4 linked regions of the Homo sapiens genome follow. The protein of the gene in region 2 purifies or fractionates together with the protein of the main gene of each other region. This does not show direct contact. Each region holds a gene or a part of one and is shown on either strand. Other genes may lie near its edges.

What was found.
Region 1: the proteins of LMAN2L (region 2) and ARSK purify together in Homo sapiens (affinity purification with mass spectrometry; 2 studies listed by BioGRID and IntAct, with this or other methods). This does not show direct contact.
Region 3: the proteins of LMAN2L (region 2) and TENM3 purify together in Homo sapiens (co-immunoprecipitation; 3 studies listed by BioGRID and IntAct, with this or other methods). This does not show direct contact.
Region 4: the proteins of LMAN2L (region 2) and LNPEP purify together in Homo sapiens (co-immunoprecipitation; 3 studies listed by BioGRID and IntAct, with this or other methods). This does not show direct contact.

The regions. Positions count from the first base shown.
Region 1 is NC_000005.10:95,558,094-95,565,121, forward strand, and holds part of ARSK (arylsulfatase K precursor), read left to right. Parts: intron 1-7,028. UniProt on the Homo sapiens protein: Catalyzes the hydrolysis of pseudosubstrates such as p-nitrocatechol sulfate and p-nitrophenyl sulfate. Catalyzes the hydrolysis of the 2-sulfate groups of the 2-O-sulfo-D-glucuronate residues of chondroitin sulfate, heparin and heparitin sulfate.
Region 2 is NC_000002.12:96,730,039-96,737,066, forward strand, and holds part of LMAN2L (VIP36-like protein isoform 2 precursor), read right to left. Parts: intron 4,489-7,028; coding exon 4,371-4,488; intron 3,564-4,370; coding exon 3,481-3,563; intron 1-3,480. UniProt on the Homo sapiens protein: May be involved in the regulation of export from the endoplasmic reticulum of a subset of glycoproteins. May function as a regulator of ERGIC-53.
Region 3 is NC_000004.12:182,239,443-182,246,426, reverse strand, and holds the start of TENM3 (teneurin-3), read right to left. Parts: upstream 3,026-6,984; 5' UTR 2,951-3,025; intron 1-2,950.
Region 4 is NC_000005.10:96,939,056-96,946,083, reverse strand, and holds part of LNPEP (leucyl-cystinyl aminopeptidase), read right to left. Parts: intron 1-7,028. UniProt on the Homo sapiens protein: Release of an N-terminal amino acid, cleaves before cysteine, leucine as well as other amino acids. Degrades peptide hormones such as oxytocin, vasopressin and angiotensin III, and plays a role in maintaining homeostasis during pregnancy.

The sequences.
Region 1 (7,028 bases), on a different chromosome or scaffold from region 2:
ACAGGCTGTGAGATTTCTCATCTTCTCCTAATCCAAGTTGGAGAGGTTAAATTCCTAATGAATGCAGCTGAGAAGTTGAGGGCTCCCTTACTTCAGTCAGCCCCCACTTACAGGACAGAGGCTTTATGCCAAGTGCGGAAAGTTGAGAATCCTAGGGCCCTAATTGCCCTGGCCCTAGCTCTCTAGTAGGACAGAGGTTCCATACCAGGAGAGACAAGCTGAGAAGACCAAACAAGCTTCTGCAAAGCAAGCAGAATGGAGGAAATAATAAGGATTAGGGCAGAAATTAAAGAAACAGAGGATGGAAAAATAGTAGAGAAAATCAATGAGACCAAAAATTGGTTCTTAGACAAAATCAGCAAAATTGACAAACCTTAGCTATACTGAACAAGAAAAAAGACAAAAGAGCTAGATGACTAAAATCATGAAAGAGAATGGTTACATTATCTTAAGAAATAAAAGAATTACAAGGGAATACTTACATACAACAACTGTATGTCATCAAATTAGATAAATGAAATGGACAAATTGCTAGGAAGGCAGAAACTACTGAAACTGACTCAAGAAGAAATAGGCAATCTGAATAGACCTATAAGAAGTAAAGAGGGTAAACTGGTAATTTTAAAACTACCAACAAAGAGAAGCACAGACCCAAACGGTTTCACTGATAAATTCTACCAAATACTTAAAGAATAATTAATACTAATTCTTCATCTACTCTTCCAAAAATTAGGAGAGAACACTTCCAAACTATAAGACCAGTTTGGCCGGGCGCGGTGGCTCACACCTGTAATCCCAGCACTTTGGGAGACCGAGGTGGGTGGATCACCTGAGATCAGGAGTTCGAGACCAGCCTGGCCAACATGGCGAAACCCTGTCTCTACTAAAAATACAAAAATTAGCCAGGCGTGGTGGCAGGCACCTGTAATCCCAGCTACTCGGGAGGCTGAGGCAGGGAGAATTGCTTGAACCCAGGAGGCAGAGGTTGCAGTGAGCCGAGACGTGCCATTGCACTCCAGCATGGACAAAAGAGCAAGACTCCATCTCAAAAAACAAAAACAAAAAAACAGTTCATGCCTGATTCCAAAGCCACGAATACATCACAAGGAAAGAAACCCACAGACCAGTATCCCTTAGGAATATAAGAGCAAAGATCCTCAACAAAATGGATTTGGCCCTCCATATTCACAGGTTCTGAATCCGCAGATTCCACCAATCTCAGATAAAAATATATGGTATTTATGGGATGTGGAACTCACAGAACTTGACTTTTCCTATCCATGGGTTCCACAGGGCTGACTGTGGGACTTGAGCCCGCAAAGATTTGGTATCCTTGGGAGGTCCTGGAAACAATCCCCTGCAGATACCAAGGGACAAATGTACTAGGAAACCAAATTCATTAGTATGTAAGAAGGATTATTCACCATTACCAAGTGGAATTTGTCCCCAAAATGTACAGTGAGTTTAATATCTGAAAATCAATTAATGTAATACATCATGTTGACTGAATAAAGGACAAAACCCATGTGATCATCTCAATAGATGCAGAAAAAGCATTTGAGAAGATTTGACAATCCTTATGCATTCAACTGGCTAGAAATAGAAGGGAACTAAAAGGCATCTACAAAAAAAGCCAGAACTTTACACTGAATGGTTAAAAGAAAAAAAAAATCAGTTTTCTGACTAAGATCAGGAAGAAGACAAGGATGTGTGTTCTCACCACTGCTATACAGCATTGTACTGGGGGTTCTAGCCACAGAATTAGAAAAAAGATTAAATAAAAGGCATTCACATTGGAAAGGAAGAAGTAAAAGTATCTATACTTGCAGTAATCTTGTATGTAGGATTCTACGGCTCCACTACAAAACTATTGAACTAATAAATTAGTAAGGCTGTATACCAGATCAGTGTACAAAAATAAATTGTATTTTATATACTTAATTGATTAACACACTTATAGTCAAATTAAGAAAACAGTTCCATTTAAAGTAACATCAGAATGGATGAAATACTTAAAATAAATCTAATCAAGGAAATATAGTTCTTATACTCCGAAAACTACAAAACATTGTTGAAAGAAATAAAAGAACATTTAAATAAATGAACAGACATCCCCTTTTCATGGATCAGAAGATTTAATATTGTTAATATAGCAGTACTCACCAAAATGATCTACAGATTCAATTCAATGCCTGTCAAAATCCCTAGAACCTTTTTTTTTTTCTGCAGAGATGGAAAAACCCATCCTAAAATTCATATGGTAATTCAAGGGACCCAGAATAGCCAAAAATAAATCTTGAAATAAAAAGAACAAAGTTGAAAGACATACACCTCCCAATTTTAAAGCTTATATCTTAACTACACCAATCAATGTAGTATGTTATTGGCTTAAGGATAGGTGACATACAGATCAATGGAATAGGATCTAAAGTCCAGAAATAAACTCTCATATTTATAGTAAATTGATTTTTTAACAAGGGTGCCAAGACCATTTAATAGGGAAAGAATGATCTTTTAAACAAATGGTGCTGGAAAAAAAAAATATGAATGAAGTTGGACCCTGCCTTGCACCATACACAAACACACAAAAAAAAACTTTAAGTAAATTGATTGATTAATCAAATGTAAAACTAAAAAACTCTTACAAGAAAACATAGGTGTAAGTCTTTGTGATTGTGGATTAGGCAATTAAAAGATGGGCAAAAGATCTTTTTTTTTTTTTTTTTTTTGAAATGGAGTCTCGCTCTGTCACCCAGGCCGGAGTGCAGTGGCGCAATCTCGGCTTACTGCAACTTCTGCCTCCCAGGTTCAAGCCATTCTCCTGCCTCAGTCTCCTGAGTAGCTGGGACTACAGGTGCCCGCCACCACACCCAGATAATTTTTTAATTTTTATTTTTAGTAGAGATGGGGTTTCACCGTATTAGCCAGGATGGTCTCGATCTCCTGACCTTGGGATATACCCGCCTAGGCCTCCCAAAGTGCTGGGATTACCGGCATGAACCACCATGCCCGGCCAAAAGATCTTAATAGACATTTCTTCATAGAAGATACGCAGATGACAAATAAATACATGAAAAGATGCTCAACATCATTAATCATTCGGGAAATGTAAATCAAAACCACAGTGAGACACCAGTTATACCCACTGGGATGGTTATAATGAAAAAGACAATAACTAGAGATGGCAACAATGTGGAGGAATTGCAACCCATACCCTGCTGGTAGGATCACGCAGCCATTGGAAATCAGTTTGGCAGTTTCTCGAATGGTTAACCATAGAGTTGCTGTATAATCCAGCAGTTTTACTCCTAGGTGTATATTCAAGGGAAATGAAAATATAAGTCTACACAAAAACTTCTACATGAATGTTCATAGCATTATAATGTTCATTATACATAATGGCCAAACAGTATAAACAACCCAAATGCCCATCAATTGATAAATGGATAAATAAAATTTGGTAATATTATTCAACAATAAAAAATATGGTATATGCTACAATATAGATGAAACTTAAAAAGATTATGCTAAATGAAAGAAGCTAGTCAAAAAGGACCACATATTGTATGATTCCATTCATATGAAATGTCCAGAAAAAGCAAACATAGAGCCGGAAAGTAGGTTAGTGGTTGCCTAGGCTTCAGGAAAATAGAGAGTAATGGCTAAAGAGTGCAGAATGTCTTTTGGGGATGATGAGAACATTCTAAAATCGACTATGGTAATGGTTGCACAGCTTTCTGAATACACTAAAAACCATTGAATTGTACACTTTAAATGGATGAGTTGTTTAGTGTGTTAATTATATCTTAATAAACCCATTTTTAAAAGAACAGAAAACAGGCTAGGCACGGTGGTTCACACCTGTAATACCAGCACTTTGGGAAGCCACGGCGAGCAGATCACCTGAGGTCAGAAGTTCGAGACCAGCCTGGCCAACATGGTGAAACCCCATCTCTACTAAGAATACAAAAATTAGCCAGGCATGGTGGTGGGCACCTGCCCAGCTACTCGGGAGGCTGAGTCAGGAGAATCGCTTAAACCTAGAATACAGAGGTTGCAGTGAACCGAGATTGTGCCACTGGACTCCAGCCTTGGTGACAGGGTGAGTCTCTGTCTCAAAAAAAATAAATAAAAATTTAAAATTAAATAAATAATAGAAAAGAAGCATCTCTGCCTGGGTCTTAAAGGACAGAGGCATCTTCTGCATCCCCACTCCTACTCCTACCTCTACTCCCTGCCACTGCACCTGTATCAGTTTTAGTTTTGCTGAGGTTTCAGGAGTGGCAGGGGAGAGTAGGTACAGGAGTGTTTACTAGAGAGTCTAGTGAGAATCTCATTCAGTCTGATGGACAGATCTGGGAAGAACACTATAAGCAGTCTTGCCATGCTGACATGGCAAATTAAAGTTGCTGTTACATTCTTTTATTAGGATGATTAATTCAAACCTAAACTTCTCTGATTCTGCATGGCCCATAATGATAAGGAACCGAGTACAAGCCATGGTTCAGAAGGAGCAATCAAAATCACAAAATTGTATCTACAAAAAGACTTACCCACCCCAAGGGGGAAAAATGTGTGGACCCATGAGAATTAATTAACAAGAGCAGAATGCAGCAACTAAAGGCAGTTGGTACCATTTCTGTAACTTTTGCAGAAAGCCAATTAATGGGTCATTTTTATTTCTTAAATGCCCAATTTTAGAGTGCTTAATTTGTTTGAACCATAGGAATGGCCTTGAGAAAATTGAAATGGGCTATTAGTAAGTTATAGAAGTTATAACAAAAGCCATTTTTCAAGATTTTCTCTGCCAACTAAATTTGACAGAACTGTGTTTTCACTTATAACTGGCTATCCATTGTAAACCACATTAACATACTATGGAAAACTTACTTTCTCTCTTTTTCATCAGCCAGCTGTGTTAAGATGCCTTTCAGTTCAGAATGAAATATTCTACTGACCGTCTCCCATTGATACCATTATCAGCAGTACTAGTAGTAGCCTAGTTTTTAAATGATTTGTTAGTGTGTAAAAACTACATGAAGTCAAAAACCAAAACTTCTAGAAAATTTTTAAATATTTTCTCTAATAACATTTTGGTCTTCGTTTAGAGTATTATTGATATTTCTGATATTGAGAATATGTATATCATAATTTAAATATTTCCTAGGAACCAAATTTTGCAATTGATATGCTTAATCCAGTTTATTAAGCTTTGCAAAAATACACTGTTGAATTTTGAGCATAAATTTGTCTTCTTTTTTAAATTGAACAAATCTCTGGATTAGAGATTCATTTCATTTCATTCACTGAATATTTGCATACCGCTCACTGCCTTATATATATCTCAGACAGCAATCTTAACATAGATCACCTTTCACTGATGGAATCGTTGGGAACTTTCCCACATGACGGCAGTCGCCCCCTCCCTTTCTGGTTATCTCTGCCACTATATTTCAAAGAGTCCTGCTTTCCAGCCTGCTTTTGATACAGATAATGTCCCTGTACTAGTCATAGAGATGAGTCAAGAAATCACTAACATCGATTTTAATCTGACACATTAGTTATTGATATGCTGCAGTAGTCATTTGCAGTGGTAGTTACACCAATTTGAACCTAGCCTGCAGGACTTGGAGTCCAAATCCCAATATGTGAATTATATAGCACCTTTAAGACAGTTCTACCTTGTGACCTTCTGCTCCATCCCCCAACCAGATAAGCCTGGGTTGTCTAGATTCTAGGCAGTGGCCACAAATTGTTATCTCCCCATGTTCAAAAGATTGTAACCATAAGACATATATACATTTGGAATTTGTGAGGATAAATTTCTGAGAATTTGAATTTAAGGGCTTAAAGAAATTCTCATGAGGGAGGGCTATGCACTTTTTTTTTTTTTTTTTTTTTTGAGATGGAGTCTTGCTCTGTCACTCATGCTGGAGTGCAGTGGCGCCATCTCAGCTCACTGCAACCTCTGCTTCCCGGATTCAAGTGATTCTCTTGCCTCAGCCTCCCGAGTAGCTGGGATCACAGGCACCTGCCACCACGCCTAGCTAATTTTTGTATTTTTAGTAGAGACAAGGTTTCACCATGTTGGCCTGACTGGCTTTGAACTCCTGACCTCAGGTGATCTGCCTGCCTCAGCCTCCCAAAGAGCTGGGATTACAGGCATGAGCCACTGTGCCTGGCCACTATGCACTTTTGTCTTCGCCTTTCTAGCTCATCATTGAGGAAATCAGTAGTTATTTGCTTAGCATTCAATGATTACTCTTGCTAGAAGTGGTAATTTATTTTGACATAAGACATGCATAATTTTCCCCATCTTAAAAAAAGAACTGACTTTAATCCCACATTTTCTTCCAGCTAACACACCATTCTCTAACATCCCTCCCGTTTTTCTGTTTTGCTTTGCAAAATAACTTCTCAGAAGAGCTTTTCTTTTTTCCCCCTGCTGCCTCACTTTCCTGCCTCCCATTCCTTCCCCTTTCCAGTTTAGCTGTTCATCTTTACCACGCATCGAAAGTGCTCTTGTCAGGGTCACCAGCTGTCTCCATACTGCCAATTCCAATGTGCATTTTCTGGCCTCATTTCAGGTGCATTCTCAACACAGCAGATGTTACCTCTTTCTTGGCACACTGCCTTCTCTCAGCTGTCATGGCACTCGGTCTCCTCACATCTTCCTCCCTTGGCCATTCTTTCTCAGTTTCCCATGCTGTTTCCCCTCTTATTTGGGACTCCTTATAGCTTCCTCTAGACCCTTTTCTTTCCCCTCCTTCTCTCTCCCTGAAAGGTTTTATTTAATCTCACAGTTTTCAAAACCATGAATATGTTAAATACTCCCAAGTTTTATTTCGCCAAGATAGACTTCTCTCAACTCCAGATTCCTATCTGTATCCAACAGCCTACTTTATATCTCTATTTGGGAATCTCAGCTATCTCAAGGATTTAGATATATTCTATATTTTGGGTTGGCTCATGTTCTAAACTGGAATTTATTTATAATTATGTTGAAAACATATAATAGATAGAACTCC
Region 2 (7,028 bases):
AAGATGTCTCAATTTTTACCATCTAAAATAAATTTTTTTTAATTAACATCTACAAAATCCTTACAAAATAAACCCAAGTCAGAATTTCTACTTTCTCAAACCAGAATTACTACTATCTCATGGTGAAATGGAAGCTAACAGAGTTTGAACAATTTGTTTCTGGAAGAAACAGAGAGACAAGTTTAAAACTCTTGTCAGGCCCTAAAGCTGATAACTCTTATTCAGATCCATTTCTAACTACCACTATTTCCTCAGCATGACTACAAATCCAGTCATGATCCTCTCTTCAATAAAATCCTTTAATGTACCTACCCCTTCAGAATCAAGTCCAGACTCCTCAACAGGAACACAATCCTTCAGAACTTGGCCCCAAGTGGTATATGGTGAGCATGAGTCACATACATTCAGTCTGCTCTGGCTCTCATCTAAACAGTTCAGCCACCAACCACCCAAGCAGATGCCAGTCAGTCTCAGCGGCTAGTTAACATGCCGAGGCTACAGTGTTAATATTGTAGAATGCAAGGTGAACAGCAGCCCTAGGAACTGTGCAACATAACAAGACTACTGGCCCTGCTTTTCATTCTAGCCTCATCTGTCTCTGATTCTACTTTATTTCCACACACTCATTATCCCCTCTCTCTCTCTTTTTTTTGAGATGGAGTTTCACTCTGTCGCCCAGGCTGGAGTGCAGTGGCGTGATCTCAGCTCACACTGCAACCTCCACCTTCCAGGTTCAAGCGATTCTCCTGCCTCAGCCTCCTGAGTAGCTGGGACTACAGAAGCATGCCACCACACCTGACTAATTTTTGTATTTTTAGTAGAGACGGGGTTTCGCCATGTTGGCCAGGATAGTCTCGGTCTCCTGACCTCGTGATCCACCCGCCTTGGCCTCCCAAAGTGCTGGGATTACAGGCATGAGCCACTGCACCCAGCCTCATCATCCCCTCTCTTAACCTTAGGACCTCGGCTTTTTTCCCTCTGCATGGGACACGGGTTCCTTACTCTGCAGACCTCAACCTAAAAGGCACTTCCTGGAAGAAGCCTTCCCCACTACCACCAACACTACTGCCCCACTTCAGGTTAGAAGCTCCTGCTGTGTCCTCCCATAGTGCCCCAGAGTTCCCCCATCAGCATTCTCAGTGCTACTGAGTACAAGGACCATGTTATCTTGCTCACTAATTCCCAGGGCCTGGCACCTAGAAAGTGGTTAATGTATGTGGAATGAAGAACAGCCCAGAAGGAACACAGAGAAGCAGCTGTAACTGATCCACAACAAAAGGTTATTCTCCTAACTCAGGTCTCACATTCCACCACCTTTAAAGTGAGCTCGCTGGGCACAGTGGCTCATACCTGTAACCCCACCACTTTGGGAGGCCAGGGTGGAGGAATCACCTGAGGTCAGGAGATGGAGACCATCCTGGCCAACATGGTGAAACCTTGTCTCTAAAAATACAAAAATTAGCTGGGCGTGGTGGCGTGTGCCTATAATCCCAGCTACTCAGGAGGCTGAGGCAGGAGAATGGCTTGAACCCAGGAGGTGTATGTAGGTTGCAGTGAGCCGAGATTGCACCACTGCACTCCAGCCTGGAGACGAGCGAGACTCCATCTCAAAAAATAAAAAAAATAAAAAATAAAAAGTGAGTTCTGTGGGAAATGTTAACAGCTGTTGAATCTAAGCATCACAGATACAATGATCATTCTCTATTCTTCTAATTTTTTTTGTTTATTTTGGTGACAGTCTTGCTCTGTTGCCCAGGCTGGAGTGCAGTGGTGTGATCTCAGCTCACTGCAACCTCCGCCTCCTGGGTTCAAGCCATTCTCCTGACTCAGCAACCTGAGTAGCTGGGATTACAGGCTGCAGTGCAATGGCGTGGTCTCAGCTCACTGCAACCTCCACCTCCCAGGTTCAAGTGACTCTCCCACCTCAGCCTCCCAAGTAGCTGGGACTACAGGTTAACACTAATACTAATAAAAATACTAATTTTTGTATTTTTAGTGGAGACAGGGTTTCATAATGTTGGCCAGGCTGGTCTCAAACTGCTAACCTCAAGTAATCTGCCCACCTCGGCCTCCCAAAGTGCTGGGATTACAGGCGTGAGCCACCATGCCTGGCCTTCTAATGTTTTTTAAGTTTGAAAATTTTCATAATAAACCTTTGAGGAAAAAAATAATGTGACCTTTGCCTCTATTTCTAATCCTGATTTCCTCGCTAGGTACTTAGCTACAGGATACCCAGCAACAACCTGTCATAATTTCCCACCATCTGATGGCAGTGCCGTAGGACATAGAGAGAGTACAAACCCACTGTCAATATAAGAAAGCAATAGCCGGGCATGGTGACTCACGCCTGTAATCCCAGCACTTTGGGAGGCCGAGACAGGCGGATCACGAGGTCAGGGGTTCGAGACCATCCTGACCAACATGGTGAAACCCCGTCTCTACTAAAAATACAAAAGTTAGCTGGGTGTGGTGGCATGCGCCTGTAGTCCCAGCTACGCGGGAGGCTGAGGCAGAAGAATAGCTTGAACCTGGGAGGCAGAGGTTGCAGTGAGCCGAGATCGCGCCACTGCACTCCAGCCTGGGCGACAGAGTGAGACTCTGTCTCAAAAAAAAAAAATTAAAAAAAAAAAAGAAAGCACTAAAAAACTCTTAGGTCAGGTAACAAAAAGGCCTGCCAACAGCCAGATACTAGGTTCCAACAAAATGCTGGGCTTTCATCAGTTTCCTTCTCGTTATAGCCTTTTCTTTCTTTCTTTTTTTTTTTTTTGAGACAAGAGTCTCACTCTGCTGCCCAGGGGGGAGTGCAATGGTGTGATTCTCTTGCCTCAGCCTCCCGAGTAGGTGGGATTACAGGCACCCACCACCACACCCATCTAATTTTTATATATTTAGTAGAGACGGGGTTTCACCATGTTGGCAAAGCTGGTCTCGAACTCCTGACCTCAGGTGATCTGCCCACCTCGGCCTCCCAAAGTGCTGGGCTTACAGGTGTTAGCCACCACACCTGGCCAATTATAGCCTTTTCTATAGGCGAGGAGAACTGTTCTTCAGGTCTGAGAAGAAGAAGAAGAAAAAGAAGCTGAAAAGTGTGTGCAAGTTGCAGAAGAGAGCACAGCACTGATGGATTAAAAGTCAGGGGAGGCTGAGTTACGTAAATTCAGCTTGCTCTGGTGCTGGTCTAGCAGCCAAATCACCAATCAACCAAACATGCTCAATTTTAGTGGCTATCTAATAGGCACAAGAGAGAACATGATTATCACTAAAGAAAAAGCCCCTGTTCAAGACAGCTATTCCCAAAAGACTGTGCACTCCTAAATAGTCCCTTTAGAAAAAAACACTGACAAGGACATTAACTTTCAAAGTTCAACAGATGAAGAACCCCTCACTTTCTATCTCCTTTGTTCCCTCCTGTACAACATTCCTGAGGCAAAGAACTGTGATGTCAGTGTAGCTGACCTAGGCTCTGACACTTGCCATTACCTCTTGCTGCTTCTCCTCATTGGGGTAGGTGTCTACAAATACTCCCAGCCCCACAAATTTGTCCATGTTTCCAAACACAGGCCCTAGAGAGAGAGAACAGATGATGAACAATGAAATAAAGCTAAGAGTTGATAAAGGAATAATATATCACTATGATGGAGGAAAAAGTAAAATTCAAATGACTCCCAAGCCTCTCTCAAGATGAGAAAACACATGTTTAAAAGTACCCAGCAAAGTGCATGGCCTGTAACAAGTGCCCAGTAAATATCTGTAATTGTTTGTTGTTGGAGGCAAGGGAAAGAGAGAAGGCCACTGCAACCTTATTTAGCACTCAGGCAGCTTCCTGATCCAAACTGGTTGCTAAGGTGCCCCTACAGAATTCTGCTTTACAAACAATTGGTAAAGACTATGCCCCCAAGAGAGAACTGAATTCCCTAGTTCTCCTTCTTGTTGCAAAAGAGATCAGGTCAAATCAGGTTGAGCCTGCCATCTACATGGAGCAATAATAGCTCTAACACAAGGAAAATAGATAACTCTTCTCTTGACTCAGCAGTGCTGAGATCATTCACTGTAAATGTTCAGAAGAAATCAGCTCACCCAATCGTCAGCGTTCAGGAGAGCCAGTGCTTTCATCCAGCCAACAGGCCAGGTAGTTTCACAAGGAAACTCAGAAAGAAGTAACAAGCAAGCAACTGCCTCAGGATGAGTCAAATTCAGCTGCTTATGAGGACTCAGACCCGTTCTAGAGACTAGAAGGGCCAGTGTTCATCCACATACATTAAGGGAGAGGGAAAACAGCTGGCACTGTGGGGAAGGAACCTTTTCAAAAAGAGGGCACATGAAAAATCAGGCTGTCACACCCACACAAGAGTAACACAGGCTCCCAATACCTGGCTGCATCCGATCCTTTGTGTACCAGATTGCCAAGCCATCCCCATGCAGATTCTTCTTTCCTTGTCCATGGATTTTGAAGTGCACCTGCAACTCCCAGTCTCTCAGGAAACATGGCTAAAGTGAGAAAGACATTAGAATCAATGAGGAGCATGAAATGCAAAACCCCTCAAGCCCACATCAGCAATCAACAGACTTGGAAAACACAAATGCAGGTAACACTAGACTAAGGGTTAAAACTTAAATCTAAGACTTGCTATGTGTTCATGTCATAAAATTAAACGGATTGAACCATTCAACTGTTTAGAGATTTAATATGAAAATGAATAAACCTCCCGATTATCTTCAACATTTCCCAACAGAAACAGGACAGAACTCCAAAGTTGGAAAAGACAAGAGTGTACCAAACTCCACTCCTGTGATCCTACACCCACCCAGCAAAGTAGCTCGGCTTTTAGAGTACAGATGGCTGAATTCATACTCATTTACAACTCAAGATCACCCCTCAGACAGAAAGACTCTGAAAAGCTGGATTTAAAGAAAGGTCAAAGCCTAATTTATTACAGTAGAAAAAGAAAAGCTAAGCTGTTATGCAAACGTTTCCAGGAATAATTAGCAGATACTACAAACAACTCTAATTAGCTAGACCTGGCCCTCTGCCAAGCTGAGGGGTAAGCCAGAATTCTCACAAGAAGAGCAAGTTACAGTCCCCAAACCCTCCCGTCCATGGCCAAGAAGCTTAAATGCACTTGAAGATGGATGCAAGTGGATGGTTAAGTGTTTTAAATAGTTGAACGGTTTCAAGAAAAAACCAGAGTGGGTAGTTGATTTAGGGAAGCTTCTGGTTAAAAGTCTACTGTGAAGAAAGAAGTGAAGGAAGAACAGACAGACCAGCTGGGTTCAGCCAAAGGCTCTCCAAATAGACTGTTCTGGGCAACTATTGCTAGATCATTTTCAGTTTTCATTCTTTATTTCTGGGATATTTTCCAACAGTGTTCATATTAGAAGTACACAGTCAAAATGAAAGGGGATTGGGTACTCCTGCATTGAGCAAGGGGCCTGAAATCTCCTACTCTATTGAGCCAGTCTCTGTCTTGTCACTCTGGATTCTTATCTCTCTGCTGTTTCATTACGATTTCAGAGAAACGGCCCAGCGCGGTGGCTCACGCCTGTAATCCCAGCACTTTGGGAGGCTGAGGTGGGCAGATCACAAGGTCAGGAGATCGAGACCATCCTGGCTAACACGGTGAAACCCCGTCTCTACTAAAAAATACAAAAAATTAGCCGGTGTGGTGGTGGGCGCCTGGAGTCCTAGCTACTCAGGAGGCTGAGGCAGGAGAATGGCGTGAACCCAGGAGGCAGAGCTTGCAGTGAGCTGAGATCATGCCACTACACTCCAGCCTGGGCGACAGAGCGAGACTCCATCTCAAAAAAAAAAAAAAAGATTTCAGAGAAAGGCCAGGCACAGTAGTTCACGCCAGTAATCAAAGCATTTTGAGAGGCTTTGGTGGAGGATCATTTGAGCCCAGGAGGTCCAGGCTGCAGTGAGCTGTGATAGTGCCACTGCACTCCAGCCTAGGCGACAGAGTGATGAGACCCTGTTTCAAAAAAATAGCTTTCAGAGAAAGAGTGAAATTCAGTGGGGCAGGAAGCTGCCAGGAGGTAGGTATTATGCCCCTGGGAAGAGGGCAGAGTCACAGAAGTTCCCAGTGAGCCAAGAGGTGTCTGTCACTGATTCCTGGCCTCCTACAGCACAATGCTATACTGTTTTGCTCAGGACCATGTCTAATTGTGGTTCTGAAATTCTGCCACACACTGGATTCACCTACGGAGTTTTAAAAAATCCCAATGGCCAAGCTGCACCCTATTCCAATTAGATCAGAATCTCTGGGGATGAGACCCAGGCATTGATTCCAATGGATAGCCAAATTTGAGAACCACTGCTGAAACAAATGCATCCTATTCAAATAACTCAGAAACAAGCCCATAGTCATGGTGATAGCCAGATAACAGCGAATACAGGTATCAGAAGTCGAAAAAGGGAAGAACTAGAGGCTATACTAGAACTGCTGCTACAAGTTATGTAGAGACAGACAGCCAGCAAGACAGCAGCAGAGTATCAAGCCTTGAACATAATCATCCGGTAACCCACAAGAGCCCCATCAACAAACCTGTAGAAGTGTAATAACATAACACATATTTCTATAACCATTTTAACTTGCCACAGTCTTTTCATGTCTATTGTCCTATTTTATTCTCACGACAACCCCAGTGGGCAAGTAAAACAGGTATTCTGAAGCTCATTTATCAGATAGAGAAACAGAACTAAGAAGTTAAATAATCTGCCTAGGGCTCACAGGAGGACTGTGACAGAGCTGGACCGAGAATCCCAGTCTTTCAACTGTCCTTTATCTCTGCTACGAAAACACAATGCTCTGTACTCTGTCCAAAAATGAGCTCGGCACTATGATCTAGGTTAAGGGGCCAGTTTGTGCAGATAGCTAATGTAGAAATTTCTCTTGCCCTCCTGAACAGGGAAAAGAAATCGTTCTCTTTTCTGAGATTCGCTTATCTACAACTAATGAGAAAAGCCACGTAAAAAAGTAAGTTCTTAGTTTAAGAGAATTCCAGAGAAAGTATCAAAGGATGCCAGAGTC
Region 3 (6,984 bases), on a different chromosome or scaffold from region 2:
CTCCTGTGCTCTTTCAGAGCGGGGCCTGCTTCGTGTCCACTGCTTATCTAAAATGTTATTCCTGAGGGGCGGGGGTGGGGGCTCATAGCGAATCTCATTCATAAGCGCTGCTTTGTTTTTCTCTCTGTGTTGCTTCCATGACTTCTTTTTAAAAAATTCTTTCTTCCCCTATGCCTTGGGGCTGCTGGCAGTGGTGGTAAATCCTGCTGATGACCCGGGGTTAGATAATTAGTGGTACCTAGATTGCATTCATTTTATCAATGAGACAACTTCTAGGAGTTTCATTTCAGGCCACTTAGGAAAACACATAGCCAGAAGGTGCCACCCTCTGCCATAGCGGTTGCTGCCTCTGTTTGTTCAACATAAGAGACAAGTGAGCTCTTACGCTATTTCCCGTGACTTGCAGAGCCAGGGAGTGCTACCAGAAAAGGAGTCACTGTTAACCACAGAGTGAGGATCCAGCAGGAGCGCCCGCCAATAAAATGTTACATCGGTATCAAATATAAATCAGAAACAGCTTTCCCTAAATTCCTATATTTATTAACTAACACAAATCTGTAAAATCACTGAAGGCAGTTATTGTTCTACTGGTTTTATTGCTCATCAACGGAAAAGTTAAGAAACCAGCTCAGAGTCCTAAAGCAAGTTGCAGCATTGACACAACAGTAGCCTCTTAATCCCTTTCTCTCTCCTGTGGCTGGCCCTGGAAGAGAGGAAGTTTTCAGTCCTATGGCCGTGTCACATGTCAATATCCTGGGATAACTGGTTCCAAAAGATTCTGGCAGGGACTACGGTCATCACATTAATCTAAAGAATGGAAGTAACATGTGGACTGCCTCAGTTCAAACAGACCACAGTTGCTAAACAGAGACCCAAACTGGGCCACGACGCTGCCTTCATTTAGGAGACGAGACAGAATTTAAAGGAAAGCACTGATTGCTGGAAAAGCAACAGAGAATTAAAACAAAATTTGCAATCTCAATTGGAATTTCTGATTTACTCTTGGGGCCACCTGAGAAGCAATGTGTGACACAAATCAACAACAACAGCAAAGAAATGAAGATCAGATAGATTCCTTTCTACTTGCTCTTTCACTTTTCTAAATGATGCCGGAGGATGCTACATCACATGAGACAGAGCAAAGTTGCTGGAGCCACTCTCTCAAGAGGACTCTGGGGCTGGAAACAATTGTGTCTTGTTCCCTGACACAGTCTTGGGAAACAAAGCCCATGGATTAAGTAAACTCACCCAATGATCCCATCCTGGGCAAAAAGAGAATGATTCCAGCATGCAGACCCTCAGTATTCCCATAGCAAGTGACCTCTGCCCATTAAACAAACAATAGCACAGCCTAACACTCGATTGTTTTGAATGTTTCTGAAGCCTTTGCTTCATTCCCAAAACACTAGAAAGTATCACTGCAGAGGATTAAAAGCATTCATTGATTATGGAATGTAGACATTACAATAAAAAGAGACTCTAGAAATTTAATTTTGTGAAGAAATGCAAGATTCTCATTAATTTAATTAGAACATAAATAACATCAAGCATAGCTAATAAAGTTCAACATGATTTGATTTGCATGAGGCTCTATTAATGTAAGAAGTAAAGTGATATTTGCAAACTCTCAGAAAGCTGGACAGTTGGAATGGTTTCCTAAACAGCTATCTATTAGGCTACACAAAACTTGGTTTTTCTTTCCATATGTTACACATCATGAGAATTACACAAATCTATGACAGGGACAAAAGTGTTCCTGGACCACTGGAGGGAAGAGCCTGGGAACTGAGGATTCCAGGAGACCCGTCTTCCTCTTCATATTCTCCTCTTGTCCATCAGTTTAGGAGCCAGGCTAAAGCTGAGGCATCTTAAAATTTCGGAATGGGAAGGAAAAATAACATTAGCTACCCTGGAGGCTGTGGAAATAAATGCATCTGAATGCAAAGGACAGTGACTTGCAGGCTGCCTGAGATCCAATAAAAGCCTCATCAGAAGTAGCTGTCAATCACTCTAACATGTATGGCTGGTTCCAATAATTCTACCAGTCAAGATAATAAAATTTCAGAACACTAAATCAGCTCACAGCAAACCAGTTAAAAATATTTTGTGATCGCCGTGACCACCATGGTGGTCTAATACCCTGGGTTATATGTTTTAATAGAAAACACAAATGAGGCCGGGCGCGGTGGCTCACGCCTGTAATCCCAGCACTTTGGGAGGCCGAGGCGGGCGGATCACGAGGTCAGGAGATCGAGACCATCCCGGCTAAAATGGTGAAACCCCGTCTCTACTAAAAATACAAAAAATTAGCCGGGCGTGGTGGCGGGCGCCTGTAGTCCCAGCTACTCGGGAGGCTGAGGCAGGAGAATGGCGTGAACCCGGGAGGCGGAGCTTGCAGTGAGCCGAGGTCACGCCACTGCACTCCAGCCTGGGCGACAGAGCGAGATTCCGTCTCAAAAAAAAAAAAAAAAAAAAAAAAAGAAAACACAAATGATTCCATTCTTGGAAGAGTCTATCAGTTAGCACTTTGAGAAGACAGTCAGCCCTGAGTGCCCTGCCTCTCTTTCATTTCCTTTCCTAAGTACTGGAACCTCAGTCACAAAAGAAAACCAATATTTAAGTCAACAGACATACATTTAAAATTATTTCGCTGATGTGACTATGAATTTTACTTATAAAACAAGGACGTGCTGAATAGTTCACAGTATTTTTGGTGTGTTCATTTCAAGCATCTTGAACTGCTCTTTTCCTCAGCTTCCGTGTCCCAACACTGCCCAGATTTGCCCTCTCCATCTTCAACTACTTTTTTCCAGTCTCCTTTTTAGACTTGTCTGCCCTCCCCAGTTTCCAATACCTCGATACTCTCTTCTCATCTTCTCCTCCTTTTCTTCTAGGCTGTCTCATCCGTGCCCTCAATTCCCACCTCTCTACAGATGACTCAGCAACTTACCTTTAGTTTATCCTTAGTTCAGACTTCTCCTCCAAGCTCCAGACCCATCTAAAAGCCTTCATGGCCAGGTGCGATGGCTCATGCCTGTAATCACAGCACTTTGAGAGGCCGAGGTGGGCGGATCACTTGAGGTCAGGAAATCATGACCAGCCTGGCCAACATGGTGAAACCCCGCCTCTACTAAAAATACAAAAATTATCTGGGCGTGGTGGTGCATGCCTGTAATCCCAGCTACTCAGGAGGCTGAGGCAGGGGAATTGCTTGAACCCGGGAGGTGGAAGTCTCAATGCGCCAAGATCACCCAACTGCACTCCAGCCTGAGCGACAAGAGCGAAACTCTGTCTCAAATAAATAAATAAATAAAAGCCTATGTGACATTTACCCTTAAGACATTCTAAACACATCTCCAATACATCTAAAGTTGAATTCATTGTAGCCTCTCTACCACATAGTCGCCCTGGAATGCTTCTAATCTCAGTGAATGACATCACCGCCCAATTATGCAAGTCAGAAACCTAGTGATTATCTTGCTTACCTCTCTCTTAGCCTCCGCTTCTAATACATTATCAACTCTTGTCAATTTTATTTCCATCTCTGATAAGCACTACCCACATACAGGCTACCATCATCTCTCATCTGAACCACCACGGTAGGAAGATCTAGGGTACAGTTCAGAGAAAGCAATCAGGCAGGAAAACCAGTAAGTTTTATTGTTTGAGACAGGGCCTCAGTCTGTCACCCAGGCTGGAGTGCACTGGCGCAATCTCAGCTCAATGCAACCTCGACTTCCCAGGCTCAGGTGATTCTCCCACCTCAGTCTCCCAGGTAGCTGGAACCACAGGCAAGTGCCACCACATCGGGTTAATTTTTGTATTTTTTGTAGAGACGGGTTTTCACCATGTTGCCCAGGCTGGTCTCAAACTCCTGGGCTCAAGCAATTCACCCACCTCAGCCTCCCAAAGGGCTGGGGTTATAAGCATGAGCCACCGTGCTGGGCCACCAAGAAGTTTTAAGAAGGCAAATTGACTGGATTAAGAAAATGTGGCACATATACACCATGGAATACTATGCAGTCATAAAAAAGGATGAGTTCATGTCCTTTGTAGGGATGTGGATGAAGCTGGAAACCATCATTCTCAGCAAACTATTGCAAGGAAAAAAAAACAAACACCGCATGTTCTCACTCATAGGTGGGAACTGAACAATGAGAACACTTGGACACAGGAAGGGGAACATTACACACCGGGGCCTGTCATGGGGTGGGGGAAGTGGGGAGGGATAGCATTAGGAGATATACCTAATGTAAATGACGAGTTATTGGGTGCAGCACACCAACATGGCACATGTATATATATGTAACAAACCTGCACCTTGTGCACATGTATATATATGTAACAAACCTGCACCTTGTGCACATGTACCCTAGAACTTAAAGTAAAATAAAAAAAAAAAAAGAGAGAGGAAAAAAAAAAAGAAGGCAAATTGGTGGAAAAGGCATGTGGCTGACAGTGGAGAAAACAGATGAGAGCAAAACTGAAAAGGGTCCACTGGCTTCAGGAATAAAGAGGTTATTTGTGACCACGGAGAGTCATTTCAGTGGAGAAGCGTTTTTAAAAGAACGGTCAAGCCTTGTGCATTTTACCTGTCTGGAAAAAGAAAGGGAAAAGGAAAGCCGGGCCCAGTGGCTCATGCCTGTAATCCCAGCACTTTGGGAGGCCGAGGCAGGTGGATCACGAGGTCAGGAGTTCAAGACCAGCCTGACCAACATGGGAAAACCCGTCTCTACTAAAAATACAAAAATTAGCTGGGCATGGTGGCACATGCCTGTAGTCCCAGCTACTCAGGAGGCTGAGGCAGGAGGCCTGAACCTGAGAGGCGGAGGTTGCAGTGAGCCAAGATCGCAGCATAGCAACAGAGCAACAGAGTAAGACTCCGCCTCACAAAAAAAAAAAAAAAAAGAAAGAAAAAAGAAAGGGAAAAGGAAGCGACTGAAGATAGGAGAATGTGGAAAAAAATTAATGGAGCCAAGGATCCAGAGGAAGCAGAGGGGAATGCCACACAGGGCCCAGGTAGAGGGGGCACCACTGAACAGAAGAAGGGATGAAGGCATGTCTTTTTTGTTAGAGAAAAACAGAGAACATGTGTGTTGACCTCTCATTATTGAATGAATCAGAAGAAAGCATTGTCAGAAATGGAGGTGAAAACTGTTGTTACAAGAGAACAAAGTATTGGGATAGTAATTGATTAAATGAACATTTATTAAGTGCCCAGAAGCTGAGCTCTGGGAAGCCAATGGTAAACCAGAGAGAAGCTATAACGATTCACATGAAAATCCCAACTCTGCAAGGAATGAAATTTCAGCACGAGTGTTAAACTGTCAAGAATGGGAGCAGATTAAGGGGACCATGTGGAAAAAAATCTTCAAGCCCGATGACAAAAGCCTCAAAGATGCAAGCAGGCATCCTTGAGGCTGTAGGTGGTGATGAGAAGCGGGCTTCAGAGAAGGAGGAAATACTGAGTGAAGGTCAGTGGAGCGGGAAAGAGAGGCAGTGAAAATGCCATCCTGCCCAGGGGCCTCAGAGGCCAGATCTGAGGGGACATAGCAGGCTGGTCTCAAAGCCCTGTAATACAGTAATCCTATGACAAACAGGCAAAACAGCAGCCTCTGGAGCTGCATTCCATCCCAGGCCCTTACTGTCTCCCTGCTCCAGGCTCTCTGGGTGGACAGAAGACCTCCCAGGCTGTGTCCATGGGGAATGGCACCATGAGGAACACCCTGCTAGATCCTGCCTTTCCCTGCTCTCGTGGGCTGCAGGGCCGGGACTCGCAGGGAGAATTGCCAGGCTCTGATGGTAATCACCCACATGCTCAAAGTGCACGCAAGATAACTTGAAGAAAAGTCAGGCATTTTCACTCTGAGATCAGCATGCTGATGACACATGGTCTACATCTCCCCTTTTATCTCTAATCCTGACACCACAGTTTCACAACGTATTCAGCATCTGAGGAGCCTAACAGGGGACTGGGATCAAAGTGAGCCAGAAAAAGATTAATCCCGATAAGACAGAGGTTATGATGATAGCCGGGAGAAAATATTTAAAGAATGTGGGGAGCGCTCTTCTGTGTCTCTCGTAGGAACGTGTCTCTCTCCTACTTGCTGGGTCACTTCTGGCATTCCGTTGATCTCAGTGGACGTCCATGACAAGACAAGCCCAACACAAGCAGGCCTATTTATGGTTCCCAAACTCAGAGTCAGTGACAGACTAAATAGGCTCTGACTCTCGCTCTGAAATATCCGGGTGGCTGTGGCTAACCAGGGTCTTCATAAATCATGAGTTTAATTAAGGCAACAGCCAATATCCACTTTTTCTCCCCATAGAAGTTCCCCCACTGCAGTCATCAGCAAAGCAAAAAATGCTGCTTAACTTTCCCCCAGTTTCACTACTCTACAACTGTTATTACAGTATTGTTTTTTTCCCAGCCATTTTAATTAATGTTGTTTTGTGAAATTTCTTCCTGAATCTATTTCTCTGAGAAGTTTAATTTTAGAAAACCAAAGTGTCAAATGATCTAGCATTAATTACCCTATTTTTACACTTTGAAAATAGCAAACTACTAATCAATTTTTGTTTCTTCTTTATAATCAGATAGGTGTAATGATTTTTTTCCAGTAAAGCTTTTTTTGCGATTATTTGGGATACAGTATTACTATAAGCAACAAATATTAGATATTATTGTCCTTCCTTCTTATTTCATTTGAAGTATCCATAGTGGTATTTTCTCCCTACCCTGTCTCCGCCCCTATTTGGTTTGAAATCTTTTCTAACTAGACCTCTTTCAAGAAGGAAACTCTATAAAACTAAATCATCTTTTTCCTGCAAGATAACCTGAACTCTTGAAGAATCCACTTATTTGTATGACAATGTCAAAGTTTTTGCAGCATGCTAAATGTTAGACTGTAGTATTTTAGTAAGTTTCTTGCCAGCTTTTAGAAACAAAATATATTTTACTAATAATGGAAAGAATTCAATAAA
Region 4 (7,028 bases), on a different chromosome or scaffold from region 2:
ACACTAGCTCCTCTCACCAAGACTCAAGTGTCATGGCAGCCTCCCTTATTTCATCATTGAGGCCCTTCCGACAATTATAGGACAAGCAGACACCAGACATGTATTACATTCTTTCTGTCTTCAAAGCACTTTACCAATACCAACTTAAAAAGATATTTAAACATCTCCTTTTGATTGAGCTCTCAAGATTGAGTTCTCCTCATCATTCCCACTAATCTCTATAAATTTTTCCTCTAAAGAGGATCTTGGAATGATTTTGTAAACCAAAAATAAAATTCTAGGCCCCTCAACTGACCGAATGGACCCCTCTGACTGAACGGCCAAGGGCATTCCAAAGTAAACATGAAAAACTAGCTCAGGCTATGATGGGAAGCGGGGGTCAGACGCACCTCATTATACTCTCCTCCCTTTGGAATTCTGGCACAACTGACCAGCATTAATATTAAAACAGAGATCTTAAGACTGACGAAACACTCTTTGTAGCAATAAAATACCAAATTCTAAACTGACTCTAGTATAACATCACACAACAGATAGCAGGCTGTGAAAGAAATAAAGGTATTTTACCCCAAAATATATTTCTTAGACCTATTTTGAAATGGCCCTGCAAAGCTGTCTCTTGTGTGGAACATTCTATAGAAAAAGACCTTTCTGATCTCTTTTTTTTTTTTTTTTTTTGAGATAGGGTCTCACTCTCTTGCCCAGGCTGCAGTGCAGTGGCATGACCACAGCTCACTTCCACTTTGCCCAGGCTCAAGTGATCCTTTCACCTCAGCCTCTCAAGCAGCTGGGACCACAGGTGCATACCATCACACCTGACTAATTTTTTTTTTTAATTTTTAATTTTTTTGTAGAGACAGGCTCTCACTATGTTGCCCAGGCTGGTCTTGAACTGCTGGCCTCAAGCAATCTTCCTGCCTTGGCCTCCCAAAGTGCTAGGATTACAGGTGTGAGCCACTGCACCACCCCAGGTCTTTTTTTGATCCAGGAGAGATTTAACTAAGAGTCTGGCACATTTTACGTTCTGATAAGAGATAATAACCATCTATTCTCTGAAAGCCTGCTACCTGGAGGCTTCGTCTACATATTAAGAACCCTGGTCTCCATGACCCCTTACCTTATCTTAACCCAGACACTCCTTTCTATGGATTCCAGGTCTTTAGATAATAACTTAATTATTTCGACCAACTGCCAATCAGAAAATCTTTGAATGTGGCCACATGTGTGGCTCATGCCTGTAATCCCAGCACTTTGGGAGGCTGAGGTGGGTGATGACTTGAGGCCAGGAGTTCAAGACCACCCTGGGCAATATGGCGAAATCTCATCTCTACTGAAAAAACACAAAAATTAGCTGGGTGTGGTGGCAACATGCCTATAATCCCAGCTACTCAGGAGGCTGAGGCACAAGAATTGCTTGAACCTGGGCGGCGGAGTTTGCAGTGAGCTGAGATTGCACCACTGCACTCCAGTCTGGGTGACAGAATGAGACTCTGTCTCAAAAAAAAAAAAAAAAAAAAAAAAAAGCAAAAATAAGAAAAACAAAAAAGAAAATCTTTGAATCCACCTATGAACTGGAATAGAAGTCCCCGCTTTGAGTTATCCCCTTTCCAGACTGAGCCAATGTACACTTTACATGTATTGATTGTTGTCTGCCTATAACTTCTGTCTCCCTAAAATGTATAACATCAAGCTGTAACCCAACCATGTTGGGCACATGTTCTCAGGACTTCTTGAGACTGTGCTTTGGGCCTTGGTCACACATTATTTATCTCAGAATAAGCCTCTTTAAAGATTTTACAGTTTGACTCTTTTCATTGACAATGAAATGTTTCATTGACAATGTAATGATGTTTCATTGATGAATATACTAACAACTGTTTTAAATTTGACAAAATAACAGTTTCAGCTGTGAGAAATACTATGGCTTAAGCCTCCTTCCTTACCAGAAATTTTCTCTATGGCACTGAATGACACCTGAGTCAGTTGTCCGGGAAATGCTCCCACATAGCACTGTTCATCACTTGCTGCAAGAGGAAGGGAGCACACCCAACCCATAGAGGCATCCTTTTCTCACTGCACTCCTCATTCTTCTGTTCCCTCAGTTGAAGAAGCCTTCTTTAACTTCCTTCACCCCAGATCATTGGCTGGAGAAGACTCTGAGCCCCACAATCCAGAGAAATTCAGACAACTGATTCAAGTTCTGGTTCAGTGACTACATTTTTGAAATATGTGGAATGCCCAGGAGTACCTTCATTAAGCAATATGTATTAGAAGAAAAAGAATTTCAAAAAGTCTCCTACAATTGAACTTGATCCTCCATTGTTTTTTGAAACTCCCTTGGAAGCTTGAATTTTCCTTATTTGGCAAATGACCTGGTTTCCTCCTCATTTACATGTTAAGGATGGAATTTTAAAAAAATTAATTGGTTCATTGTTCTATCACAAGCACCAGTAGAAAAGTGAAGCAAAGCCAGGCTATAAAGAATAGTAGGCTGGCCACAGGGCCGCACTGGCTCACACCTATAGTACCAGCACTTGGGGAGGTCAAGACAGGCAGAACATTGGAGCCCAGGAGTTCGAGACCAGCCTGGCCAACATGGCAAAACTCCATCTCTACAAAAAATACAAAAATTAGCCAGGCATGGTGGTGTGCACCTGTGGTCCCAGTTACTCGGGAGGCTGAGGCAGGAGAATCGCTTGAGCCTGAGAAGTCAAGGCTGCAGTGCTGTGGCCGTGCCACTGCACTCCAGCCAAGCAAGACCCTGTTCCCGTCCCTCCCAAAAAAAGGAACAGCAAATGACTGCTACCATGGTAGTCCCAAAAGGTAGATAGCTCTCTATAGTTTTCTTTTTTTTTTTTTTAAACAACTGGTAATCATTTATTAAAATAGTTGACTTAAGCATCTGCAATGGTGACTTCAACCTCAACTCCTGGCTCAATAATGATGGAAGTAATCTGCTTAACAATCTCAGAAAGACTGTGGAAGTCAATGAGTCACTTATGGATTCTCATCTGGAAACAATACCATGTCTCAGAACCTTCATAAGAAGTTTTTCTTGTAATGTTTCTCAAAGTCTTGGTAGGCATTCAAACTGGTCCTATCACTTTAGATTCTTTTCCTTTGATCCATTGATCAAGTCGGCACACACCTTCTCCAAGGATTTTACCTTGCAGCTCGTTAGAGTGATTCTTTTTATTTATTTATTTTTTTATTATACTTTAAGTTCTAGGGTACATGTGCACAACGTGCAGGTTTGTTACATATGTATACATGTGCTATGTTGGTGTGCTGCACCAATTAAGTCGTCATTTACACTAGGTATATCTCCTAATGCTATCCCTCCCCCCTCCCCCGACTCCATGACAGGCCCCAGTGTGTGGTGTTCCCCACCCTGTGTCCAAGTGTTCTCGTATTTTTTTTTTTTTTTTTTTGAGATGGAGTCTCGCTCTGTCACCAGGCTGGAATGCAGTGGCACGATCTCGGCTCACTGCAACCTCCGCCTCCTGGGTCCAAGTGATTCTTGTGCCTCAGCCTCCCGAGTAGCTGGGATTTCAGGCACGTGCCAACATACTCAGCTAATTTTTGTATTTTTAGTAGAGACAGGGTTTCACCATGTTGGCCAGGCTGGCCTCAAACTCCTGACCTCAGGTGATCCGCCTGCCTCAGCCTCCCAAAGTGCTGGGAGTATAGGTGTGAGCCACCGCGCTGGGCCTAGAGTGATTCTAATTCAGTGAATTGCCACCTCTGGCTTCATGGGCGTTTTTCTGTATCTCCTGACCAACCTGTTTTTTGGTGAGAGCGAGCGGCGGTGAGTCAGGAGCAAGAGCAGGCTTACCACAGCTCCACACCACGTTGTTTATCAAAGAGCTATATTTTTTCTTTAAATCTAAAACATTCAGACAAGTGAACAGTCCCAACTTACGAGTGACTGAATTTTCTGACTATAAAAAAGACAGTATGCTTAAATTTCTGGCAAATGTTTTCTATCTCTTGGCAAGGCTCCCAAATGCCAATCTTAACTCATTTGTCCCCTGAGCCCCCAATTCCATTAATCCAACCAGACCTACCTACCTGTCCCCTTCCAACCTAGACTCTGTCTTCAACCTCATACAACAGTGTCCTGCTCTCCAACTGAAGCTCATTTCTGAACCAAAGACTTGCAAGGATCAAGGCATGACCATTTTTAAAATCTCTGCCTATCAGCTTCTTCCTTTACCCCCAATCTCCACATTTCTTTCATCTTCATCATTGATTCTCCTCTTCCAATTTTCTCTAAACATCTTTGTAAAATGCAAAGTCCTTCAGGTGCTGCTAGGACAATCACAAATGAATTACAACAATGGATAAGGTTACAAGGGAATCCTGTCCACCCTTCCATGGACACAGAGAACTCTTGATGTTCCATTTACTGTCCAGAAACACCAAGGCAATAAGCAACACTCTCTATAACGGCCATATGTAGATCTAGGTCAAGATCTAGATATAAAAAGAACTGTACCACCACAAGGGCTCCAAAATGTCCCTTCATTCTCAATCCTGGCTTCTTGCAAACTTTCAGAAAAGTTGCTGAAATTTATCTACGGATTCAAATTAAAAAAATAATAATAAATAAATAAATAAAAGACTGTGTCTTTCTGGTTGCTCCAATTATACTATGGAAAGGCCTAGTAGTATCAGCTCAACTCCAGCCCCCTACAGTAGGTTTGCCCAACCCCAAGGCCACAGACCAGTACCAGTCTCTGGCCTGTTAGGAATCAGGCCACACAGCAGGAGTGAGCAGCAGGCAAACAAGTGAAGCTTCATCTCTACAGTCAGTCCCCATCGTTAGCATTACCACCTGAGCTCCACCTCCTGTCAGATCAGTGGTGGCATTAGATTCTCATAGGAGCACGAACCCTATTGTGAACTGCGCATGTGAGGGATCTAGGTTGTGTGCTCCTTTTGAGAATTTAATGCCTGATCTGTCACTGTCTCCCACCACTCCTAGATGGGACTGTCTACTTGCAGGAAAACAAGCTCAGGGCTCCCACTGATTCTACATTATGGTGAGTTGTATAATTATTTCATTGTATATTACAATGCAATAATAATAGAAATAAAGTGCACAATAAATATAATGCACTTGAGTCATCCCCAAACCTTCTCCCCTTTAGAATATATCACAAACTAGAAAGTATACATACATCCCCCCGACTGTGGTCCCTGGTCCCGAAAAGTTTGGGGACTGCTGCCCTACAGTTTTCAAGTCATGAGGTGACTAATTGACAAAACATAGCTGCACTGACCTCACCTCGACTGCCAAGAACCACAGGCCTCATCTAGGTCCATCCCAACATCTGGGGTAATCTTGGCTAAACTCTTTCAAATCTCAATTTCCTAATGTTTTCATAGACAGGGTTAATACTGCTGTTTCCTAATAGGAGTATTACACTAAATTAGTAGACATGCAAACAGTTATGAACAGTTTCTGTACATTTATTTCATAATTAGAATACTGTCTTAGACAAAACTTTATTGCTTTTTTATTTCTTCTGTGTTTCCATATTTCATATTAGCATGACAACAAAACTAGGTTCTTCTATTCATTTCTCTTATTTAGGTAAGCATTATCTGATGACGAGGTTGTGGGTTTTTTTTTTTTAATGTAACTGTGTCTAGCAGAAAATCTACTTGTAAATGGGCATTCAAAAGATAGCTGTATGATTGAATTACTGAGCAGAAAATTACCACTTATTTTCTATATAATTTCCTTATAACCAATCTCTCTGGTTATCTATCTTTCAGGCTGAGTTCTCAAGGATAACCTACAGATAAATGATAATCACCGGTTATAAGAGTTTCTAAAATATGCTGTTTTTATGCATGTATCAAGACAGTTTTTGGAAACTGGCAAGTAATAGCAAAGAACTTTTCTACCACTAGTTTCCAGTTAAAAACTGGGCTGTTTCTAGCTATAGCTTTAACCCTAGATTGTTAGTGATGCTAACACTTAATTCCTAACAGTCTTATTTCCCCCAAATAAAATTAAAAACTTAAGACAGAAAGATAAAAACAGGATTTAACTTATATTCCATCACACAGAGAAACTATGAGCTCCTATTTCTTAAGAGTTGTCTTTCAATGTGGAAATTTATCATAGAGCAAAAGAAAAATAAAAACAAAATGTGGTATGCTCACATTTTTGAGAAGTGATGCTAAAAATTTTTTTTTAAAAAGACTCACATATCTATAGAACAATTGTTATTTGTAAGATTAAAAGATGGAATCACAATTTTATACTGTATTACAACCCACAAATATCTCATTTGTTGCCCAGACTTCCCATTTTTGAAGTTGAAAAATACTTTCAACTGGATACCAATCTGAACATGAAAGCAAAAATAATTTTTTAAGACAACTAAGTCCTCCTTGTTTGATTATGCACCACACTGCGGTAATAAAAGTGATTCATAGGACCTACATTCATATGAAAAAAAAAACTATTTATGTTTTCAGTTCTGGGACCTCAAAATGCCAAAATACCAACCTTTAGATATACTTTAGAATATATCACAAACTAGAAAGTATATATACTTTCAGCTGGGCGCGGTGGCTCATGCCTGTAATCCCAGTACTTTGGGAGGCTAAGGTGAGCGGATCACTTGAGGTCAGGAGTTCACCTGGCCAACATGGTGAAACCTCATTTCTACTAGAAATACAAAAATTATTTGGGCATGGTGGCGGGCGCCTGTAATCCCAGCTACTCGGGAGGCTGAGGCAGGAGGATCACTTGAACCCGGGAGGCAGAGGTTGCAGTGAGCTGAGATTGTGCCACTGCACTCCAGCCTGGGCAACAGAGTGAGACTGTGTCTCAAAAAAAAAAAAAAAGAAAGTATACATACTTTCTAGTATGTATTTCATATATAATCAGACCTCCTTAATCAGATTCTGAGGGTGAACCTTAGCATTTGCATTTCTTAAGATGAATTTAAGTTTTTACAAAATATACCAACCCTGCATGCAAATGAAGACAAAAATCTGGATAAACA